Linked DNA regions of Homo sapiens: region 2 is linked to region 1. A link means that fine-mapping ties the variant in region 1 to the expression of a gene that starts in the linked region. Tissue or cell type: whole blood. Region 1 holds a variant in brackets; the other region holds the start of a gene. All regions are shown on one strand. Distances are from middle to middle.

Evidence for each region. PIP is the estimated chance that this variant, and not a neighbour inherited with it, causes the effect.
Region 2: TBCK starts here. The variant in region 1 is fine-mapped to the expression of TBCK in whole blood (TOPMed, PIP above 0.99).

What each region holds. Positions count from the first base shown.
Region 1 is chr4:106,259,183-106,264,182 of GRCh38, reverse strand. It overlaps TBCK (TBC1 domain containing kinase), which reads left to right. Exons shown (of 26, transcript NM_001163435.3): 4 at 1,971-2,085; 5 at 3,673-3,746. Among named protein-coding and RNA genes, the nearest start is that of TBCK, 55 kb to the left of the region's middle. The variant C/T (reference allele first, on the strand shown) is at 2,080.
Region 2 is chr4:106,314,101-106,319,309 of GRCh38, reverse strand. TBCK (TBC1 domain containing kinase) reads left to right here and starts at 3,101. Exons shown (of 26, transcript NM_001163435.3): 1 at 3,101-3,379. AIMP1 (aminoacyl tRNA synthetase complex interacting multifunctional protein 1) reads right to left here and starts at 2,760. Exons shown (of 7, transcript NM_001142416.2): 1 at 2,716-2,760. RefSeq lists enhancers at 2,552-2,801, 3,292-3,351, 3,432-3,521.

The DNA.
Region 1 (5,000 bases):
GAGTGTAGGTTTCCTTTATCCCACTTACTGTTTGATAATGTAAAAACAATATAATGAATACAGATAAGAAGTTTGGGAAGAAAATTGGGGAAGTTGTGAAAATATGACAACTGTATCCTCTTGCAGAATGAAGAGTTAGTTATATTAAGTAAAAGTCTACCACCAGAATTGAAAACTACCTGCTGATGATTATTTGATAATGTAAAATAAAATTTGTTAATGTAAAACAATGTAATAAAAAGGACTTGAGGAAGAAAAATAGGAAAGTTGTGAAAATACGTCAATTATATCCTCTTGCATAGTGAAGAGTTAGTAAGTAAGTAAAAATCTAACCACCAGAAGAATTGAAAACAAAACCTGCTGATTCCCTCTGGAAAGTCAAACTAGGATCATAGAGGCAAATTTTAGCTTTTATCTCTGGTTATTTCTTTTGGTTTTAATTTCGGAGAGAGAATCAGGTTGCAACAATTATTTTTGTAAAAATTTTATTCAATCTAGTATTTTTTAAAGTCAGGATTATTAAGGTATAATTTACATACCTTAACATTTACCCTGTTTTATGTAAAGTTTAATGAGTTTGATAAACAAAATTATGTAACCATCATCAAAATCAAGGATAGAACAGTTCCCTCATGCCACAAAACTTTCTCATACTCTTTTGTAGTCCACCTACCCCCCACCCAAGCCCATGGCAATCTGTTAGTCCATTTTTTAACTTTTAACCTATGTCTTTTATTTAGTGCGTTTCTCATAGACTGAGTATAGCTGAGTTTAAATTCTTATCAAATCTGACAATCCTTATGTTTTAATTGGTGAATTGAGACCATTTGTACTTAATCTATTAGTCATTTTCTATTTGTTCTGTTCTTTTTTCCTTTTATTCTGCCTGTTTGTGGATTGAATATTTTTTATTATTCCATATTATCTCTACTATTGGTTTTAAAAATTATGTTTAGTGGCTATCTGCAAACACTAATTTAATTTTAGAAAAATTTAAAAAAAATGGATAGAAAGGAAAATGTTAATATTGTAGGTATGGGGAAATTTCCTATGTGAACAATTTTTGATTAAAACATTAGAGGATAATTAATAAAGCTAGGTTAATTGTATGTGAGTATTACATTTGTCTTATGCTCTGAGATTTGAACTTTTCAAAAAGAAAAGGAATGTTGACAAGAAAATATTTTAATGCAGGCACCAATGTCTGCAAATGAACAATCCATACTTTATAAAGTGTAATAATAAAAATTAAAACATGTTCCAAATCCTACTTACTACTGCTAAGTAGCAGTATTTACCCAAATACAGTACCTGTTTCCTGATAATTTGCATGAGTAGACTTGCAAATTGGAAAAAAAATTAGGGAGATGGTTGGTGAGAGAGACAAGGAGGGAAAAGGAGAAGGAAACTGGAGGATATCTGTGTGAAGGATGGCTTGTAGAGGATAGGATAAGAATTAAAGAGAAAAGTTTGCTAAATCATAAATGACCAGAGATTGCTTTATAGGTTGAATATGGAAAATAAGCTAGTGTTTGTATACCATAAAATATATTGTTACTACTTTTTTCGGGGGCTTAGGTATTTTGTATTGAGCAAAATAGTTTTTAGTGACTTAGTTCTGCCATATACTTGAAACTTAACCTGATAATTTGGCGAAGCCAAACCTGCTATAGGTTAGTTGCACTCACCACCAAAATTAAAGCCCTTTCGTGGAAGAACCAAATACTGCTATTACAGTAGCCTTTAGGAAACTGTAGGATCTTTGTCAGATTAATTCTGTTATAATCAGAAAACCTAAAATATGTAGAGGTAGATATTTTAGAAAATATATAGATTCTATTTTCTCAGAATAAAAGAGGAGCAATAAAAATATAACTTTTTGAATATTTTCACTAGGTCACATTTCACTTGTTAAAACAAGTTATTTATTTGCTTTGTAATTGATCTTTGACTTTTTGTTTTCTTTGTAGCTGTTCAACGGTTTTGTGTATAGCATTTGAGGTTCTTCAGGGCTTGCAGTATATGAACAAACATGGTATAGTACACAGGGCATTGTCTCCTCATAATATCCTGTTGGAC[C/T]GAAAGGTAATTGTTAAATCATGTAATAAATATTTATATATCATTTGAAATTGGAAGCAACTGGGATCAGGGCTACTCAGTCAGAGGAACAATAGAATCAGAATATGTTTTAAGAATATTCATAATGAAAAGTCTATATGAAAGTGATGTAACTGTGGTTTTTGAATTTAAGGATTAAATAATCCTTAAATTATTTAATCTGTATATCTTTCACATGGATTATTTTTCCCACAAGACCCATTTTCTAACTTTATGGTTTTTTTATTTTACTCTTATTTCTAAAGCCTTGTGGCGTCCCAGTATACTCCTCCTCTTAATTTATTTTCATTTTTAAGAAAATGGCTCTTTTTGCTAGAATGTTATTCATATAAACCAACTGCATTGTGTTTTCTCTATTTTTCTTCTGCCTTCTTTCCTCTTCTATTTATCTCCTTATTTACCAACTGTTCATGCCTACCTCCTTTTACTATTGAAGTGCTGTTTCTCTACTGGAAATCTTATGGGGCATTAAGAAGAAGCTTGTAAACCCTTCAAAGAGAATTATGGATAGTAAGGTTATATATTTTCAGGAATAATTGTAATTTGATTCCTTTTCATAAAATACATAAAAACAACTTGGAGGAAATTTTTTCATGGGCATTATTTGCTGTGTTAGGATTATCCTTGTTCTCTGGTTCTTTTCCCAAATCAATACTTGGGAGGCTGAGATGAGAACATTGCTTGAGCCCAGGAGTTTGAGGCTGCAGTGAGCTATAATCACACCAATGCACTCCAGCCTGGATGACAGTGTGAGACCCTGTCTCTAAAAAACAAACACACAAACACAAAAATAGAAAATTGTACTCATTAGTTTCAGATTTATGGCAGTAAAGAATCATTACCTTATCAATTTAAGCTGTTTTTAAATATAAATATTTTATAATGCTTGGAAATAATGTTCTTGAGAAGACAAACCAATTTTAAGATCAACTTAATATTTTAAAGCCTTATAGATTAAAAGGGAAAAACTTAAAATATGTAAAATTATATTTATCATTTATTAAGAGCCTTATACTTATGATAGTTATTTTTGTTCTCAAACAATATAAAAAGTTATTGAAAATCTAGCAGATTCACCAAAATCTTGATGATTTTTGAACTGATCTTTTCAAGTTAAGTTTTCCTATTTCACAGTTAAATTATAACTATAAATGGACTTTCAACTCCATGGAAAAAAATTTGCTCTGTGAAAATTACCACAAAACATTCTAACCAAGGTTTCAAGACAGATGAGAATGTTTTTGCCTTTTTGTTTTGTGAAATAACTAGACAATGTAACAGCAAAAATATTAAAGAAAAATGTCATTTGTCATTTTGAGATATATATGTGTACATATGCATATATACATATTTAATGAGTATAAAGCAGACTATTGGCAGATAGTTTTTTATAAAATTATGATTTTTTAAAATCTACAGTGGCATTTTGATAAAATATTGTTATATAATGGTTTCTTTAGTTATAAAATGTATAATGATAATTTTATAATATAAATTATATGTTGCCAATTATAATAAATTATTTGATAGTGTTTTTTTTCTTTATTATCATAGGGACATATTAAATTGGCTAAATTTGGACTTTATCACATGACAGCTCATGGTGATGATGTTGATTTCCCAATAGGGTAAGGATATGTTTTCCTCTATTTTGAGTTTCTTTTTAACTTTGTAATCTTTGATAACATGTATATTTTGTTAATTATATTTGATATTCCTTTTTGATATGCAAACAGCTTTTTTAAAATTAATGCATCTCAATTTTCCATATACTTTTAAAATGAGTAGACAATGAGTTTTTCCCAGCATCCTCGTTGATGTTCATCATTCATTGAATTGGCAGAGAAGCTAACAGTATTGACATTCTTTACATTATAATATTTCCTAATTATCTGTATTTCATTCAGAATCAAATCAACTTAAGGCAAGAAGGATGACTAGATTCTCAACTAATGATAATGTGTGTGCATCAAGAGACTGAAAAACATCACTCTCACATTATTTTCAATTTAATGTTTTATGTTTAATTCCCTTTTCTCTAAGATATATATTAAGATTCAAGTTGAGTCATTGTGGATATTAGAGATAGAGATAAATTCCATACCTGAAAGTCTATGTTTAAGTTCAGAAAGGTTTATTTAATCACTTCTGTTATGGAATTGCAGATGTATGTTGCCCTCCACAAAAGAAATGGAAGGTTGTTTCATGCATATTCAAGTAGATGTTTTTGATACGGATTTCTGTGTTATATTTGTGTGGTTGCTTTTAGACATTTTCATTATTATTTTCTTTTCTGAAGATTAAGTTGAGATTGTTTTAGATAAAATAGTTACAAAAATAGTATAAAGAATTCCTCTCTACCCTTCATCAGTTTCTCCAAATGTTAACATTTCACTACATTTGCTTTTTCTCTGTTTTTTCTCCGAGCATATATGTGTGTATGTGTATAATGATTGTTTTTTATAATCACTTAAGAGTAATTAATTACATAATAGCACTTTAACCTGTAAGTACTTCAGTTTGTATTTTCTAAAAGAAGGACTTTGTTTTTTTACATGACCTCAGAACAGTTGTCAAAACAAGGAAACTAAACTTGATGCAGTATTATTATCTAACCTAGAGACATTAATCATATTTTTTCAATTGTAATGTGACTGTTTTTGATAGTATCCATTTGTGTTTTCCTCTTTGGGCTTCCTAAAATCAGTTCTATCACACCGTTACTGAGAATTGTGATATGGAGTCATGGAGTGTGTTTTTCAAACAGAATGTTACTCAAAAACTTAATTTGATTTTTTTTTTAAAGCCAGCCTCATATATAACTTGCCCTTTTTTCTTTATAACTCAAATTACAGGTTTCTTAACTAAATTTTTTAAGTTTA
Region 2 (5,209 bases), 55 kb before region 1:
ATTTCCTCAGTAGTCCTCCCCACCCACACCATCTAAATTGCCTGCAATCTTTTTGAAAAAGCAAAATCTCTGCCCCACGATGACAACATTGGGAATCAAACATAAGTAAGTTACTACTTTGAAATCAAAGTTTTACAGGCAGACTTTTAATTTTAGAATTCTTATGCTATATAGGAACGCTACACAAATTTGAAAGTGTCTCTACTCAAAACCTCTAATTTCCCTATTTCAGAATTACAGTAGGTAAAAATTTACATTTTTGTTGGAAGCTTTAAATACTATACAAGAAATCTAAAATGCCATCAATTGTAAAATGGCTTCAATCCCAAGAAGCTCTATTATTTTATGTACATTATGAAAAAAAACACTATTGAATCAACTGACCCAATGCTTTCTTATTACTTAGACACATCCTATATTATTTATTGACAGACTTCTTTTAAATTTAACCCTGGATTTTTATCTTGTATCACCCTTTGTTTCCCCACATACACAGTAACTTTTCATTCTAATGCTAATCATAATCTTCTAAATGATCTTTAAAAGGGAAATTACACTCAACAACTATATGCCAATAGTGCATATATAACTCAACTGAAATAATGACAAGATTAAGTTATGACTAAGTGGGTGTAAGTGTGGGCAATGACAAATATCTCACAACTGCCAATTCATCTACAGTGATTTAAAGATGTCAACAACTTAAAAATACATCCCTATTTCAGAGATGTTAAGTAAGAGAAAAATGTGTATCTCAGAATTGATGGAATATAGTAATTTTAATCATTTTCTTCCTTTCTTCTCCTCCCTTCATTCCTATTCTTGCCTTCCAACTTCTTTCCCTGATTTGCTACACAATCTAATTACTGGATATGTAAAAATATTATAGTATACATAAAATACCCCACACTGAAAGACCGTCCTTATTATAGTGTAAAGCAATGTGGTACCTTTTAGCACTAGGTGAAAATTCCTGCTAGGATTTAAATCATATGTGTCAAAAGTCAGAATTTAAAGAAGAAAATTAAATACACTGAGAACAATGCATCTGAAGACACTCAAAATATGTAAGCGCAGCAACCAGCAGTAATTCCCTAGGTCTTTTATCAACCTTTGCCAAAACCTATAAAAAGAATATCTAAAATTGCTTTTTTATGGAAGTTCCTATTTCCCTTACCAGACAGCCTGCTTTCCCTTTACTGATGAGGACATAGGGGGTCCTGGAGGGTTTAAAGGATGGCTATAAGGAATGACTATAGGGTGGACAGCTATGAGAGGCCAGTCCATGCATTTCTAAATACCATCGTCATTAACACAAAAACTTTCCTCCCCAGTACAGAGTCCATAAAATTTAAAAAGGAGTATGCCTTGGCCTCCCATGACCCTCTTACCTCACAATAAGGCCATCTTTTACCTGGTTAAGATTTGCAGACTAGACCCATTACATACCTTGTCATTAAATACCTATAATATACCCTAACCTTTGCAATCTTGACAGATGTGATTTCCATTTTATAGACAGATCCAGGAAAATTACATGACTTATCTGAATCCCTTCAAGTACCACATAGCAAAGCCATGATTTTAACTTGTGTTTGCCACTCTGAAACTCACACTGGAATTCATTTTTCAAGTGTCCTCCAAAGCCTAATTAAATAAAATTAACCCTGTCATCTATAATACTCTTACATATCCAAATTAAGTGCATCAAGAATATAACTGGCCATTTCTTACCACCCATAGTCAAACCACCATTATGCTTCCTCTGGATTATTGCAAAACTCTTCTTATTGGTCTCCTTTCTCCTACCACGTCCTCCTCTGTGTATTTTCCTTAAAGAGTGACCCTCTTAAAAGGAAGTCAGAGCCCATCACTCTACTGCTCAAAACGCTCCAAAGTCCTATTTCATTTAGAATAAAAGTTAGATGTCCTCAAGATCTTCATGACCTGCTCGCCTTGATTTAATCTCCAGTGAAGGACTAAACCCTTCACTCAACTCTGCCCTACAGGCCTCCTTGCTATTCTAGCACGTTTCTGCTTCATGACCTCTGCAATGGCTGGTCCCTCTGTCTGACTGCACTTTCCCAAGATATTCGCGTGGTTAAATCTCCCACTTCTGTCAGCCCTTTACTTAAAAGTCATCTTTTCAGCAAGACCTTCCTGTGTCACTTTATACCCTTCTTCCCTGCTTTACGTTTCTCTTCAGGACTATCACGACCTAAAATACAGTATGTTTCTAATTACTTTGCTTAGTATGTGCCTTCCTCTCTAAAATGTGAGCTACAAGTAGACACAGATTTCCGTCTGTTTTGTTCACTGCTGTTCACCTAATGCCTAGAACGGTGTCTGGAATAGAGTGGGCGCTTAATAACTATTCGCTCAATGAATAAATTCCTGTCTTCACCCTCCTCTCCCCCAAAGCACCTAAGTCCTTTGACACACACATTCACATAACAGTAAATACGCTTAGGGATCGATATTTTTCTGTAGCATTCTTAACTTAGGCCTGCATCCCATTTCTCAAACGTGGCTCCTTTAGAAGGAAGTCTCAAACTCTTTCCTGTTTCCTTAGGCCAGGGCTGGTCCTGCTGCGAACGGACTACCCATTAGCAGCGCAGGCCAGGTCCTCTCTCCTGGAGGCAAGTTAGAGAAGGAAGACCCCTACGATCGCAATCGGCGATCCCCGAGTGAGTGACCCGCCACGACGTCACTCACATGAAGCGGAGGACCACGGGTTCCGAGACAGCCACAGCAGGAAGCATGTAGGTCCAGCCACCCGCGTACTATAGCAGTGAGAAAGGACCCAATGAGGTGTCCTTGCTGAAAGCCTGAGTGTTCTACAGATTCAACCCTCAATTCTTTCTTCCTCTTCCTGTGCTCAGTCCCATTAACCTGCCATACCACGCTCCTCGTCTTCCATTCCCTCACCCAGTATTTTCAATCGACCCCCCCCGTCCCCCCGCACCTCTTTCTCTCTCGCTATATGTCCTTTCGTGGCCAGTTTGGGCAAGGGGAAGGACACCACAAGTCGGGGTCTTTCCTCAGCGTTGGGTCGCGGTGGCTGTGAGGGCGGAAGAAAAGGCCAGGCTGAGGGGAGGGTAGAGGGTGAAAAGCTCGGATCTGTGTTTGGGGAAGGCCAGGCTTGCGCTCCTCGCCGGGTTCCGCGAAGGTTAACCTTGGCTGACTTGGCTCGCGAGCAAAGGGCAGCGTCTGAGCTCCCGGCGTTCCAGGAGTGGCCTCTTTTGTAGGAGCACCTGAAATGCAGCGTCTGGTGCACTAAGCCGTAGCGGCAGCAGCAGCCACAGCGACAGCGCTGGGGCCCTGTGTAGAAGCTCCATCCCCCTTGTCTTTGTGCTTGCCTGCGTCCCCAGACTCAGAGGCAGGTATTTGGGTAATCCAGTTTTCCGTGTCGTAGTGGGTGGGGTCTGTGGGAGGTAGAGGACTATCAGGAGCAGTGAGTGGCCCCGCATGTCTTCAGAATAGATAGAGAACCGAGCTGTGGAGCCGCTTGCTGATAGGTACTGTCTCCATCCCTAGCTACAGCCCGCCTTTCCTGTAAATCAGGTTCACCTGAGTCGTTTGGGAACCGTAGGCTTAGTAATCGCTCTGTCACTGCCTCAAAGGAAGGCTAAAGGAGGTTAGAGAATCTAGAATCCGCCCCTCCATTACTCACCTTGGAGGCAGAATTTTGCTTTGGTTTGTTTCTGGCCCTCGAGGTTTAGTCAGTCGTCAAAGTGTAACACCCCCTTGAGCAGTAGGAGAAAGTGAAGCAGAGGAAGGAAGTTACTTGAGGATTGTCAGTGGCTGCTTTTCAAGGATCCCTGTCCTGGTTTCTATCTATTTGAGACAAAAATAACCTCTTGAGAGAATGTATATATAAAATAAATGAATTAGTATCATTTTCCTGTTGAAGAAATGTGAAATTTTATTCATGATAAAATCGGCGTCTTTTGCCCTATTTTTTACTTTCTTTCCCCATTCGAGTCGTTTAAAACTCTAAGTTCTTTGAGGGCACAGAGTCTGACTTGTTCATTATCCTTTGCCCACCAGCTGGAAAAACAACTGACTTAAAATAGGGGCTTCAAAATATTTGTTGAATGAATGAATTTTCAAGCCCAACTGCTTGCACTGCTGTTTCCCTCATCTAATCTCTCATCTCTACGTTTTTTTTCCCCCGGTAGTTTTCTTCCACTCACGAGGTGTAAGTGAATGTATGTGTGTGTATTTTTGTGTGTGAGCCTTTTTATGTACAACCATTTAAGAGGTAGTGGAAAAAGAACACTGATTATGCTAATTAGTGTTTTATCTTTTTCGATCATTGTGTTTTATTTGGTTATTTTATTTTCAGCTATGTGATGATAAAGACATCTGATTGAAAATAAAATGGTCGGGCGCGGTGGCTCACGCCTGTAGTCCTAGCACTTTGGGAGGTCGAGGCGGGTGGATCACCTGAGGTCAGGAGTTCAAGACCAGCCTGGCCAGGATGGTGAAACCCCGTCTCTACTAAAAATACAAAAATTAGCCGGGCGTGGTGGCGGGCGCCTGTAATCCCAGCCACTCTGGAGGCTGAGGCACAGAATCGCTTGAACCCGGGAGGTGGAAGGATGCAGTGAGCCGAGATCATGCCACTGCACTCCAGCCTTGATGACAGAGTGAGACTCTGTCTCAAAAAAAAAAAAAAAAAAAAAAAAAATCAAGTAGTATAGCGTAGTAGGATTGAATAATAAAGTGCAACTGTCTCACCTGTCCTACTCTCAGTACTGTTCTTCAAAGATAACCACTTTTAACCTTTTCTAATTTTAGGTCTGTAGGTTAAATAATAAGTTAAACTGTTAATTCTTTTTGTTGACTTCTTGAGATAGCCCTAAGTTGAACTGCTAATTCTTTTTCCGTTGACTTCTAGAAATAGCCCACACCATTCACAATCTCCTCTGAATTTTGGAAGAGTCATAATCATAATTTTTAGTTTTTGTATTGGTTACTTTATAATTCAAAATAATATACGTAAACTACTTTTTTCACATCAACTTTTGAAAATATATTTGACTCCTTGTTTGGTAAAACGAGAAAAGTAGTGATTCTACCTTTTTCTTTATCACTTCAGAAACTACATTTATGCCCACTTTCTCTTAGCTGGACATTTACTTGTACATTGTCAAAGTTAGTAATATATTTCTTAACTATAACATTTGCGCTTTATTCACGTGCC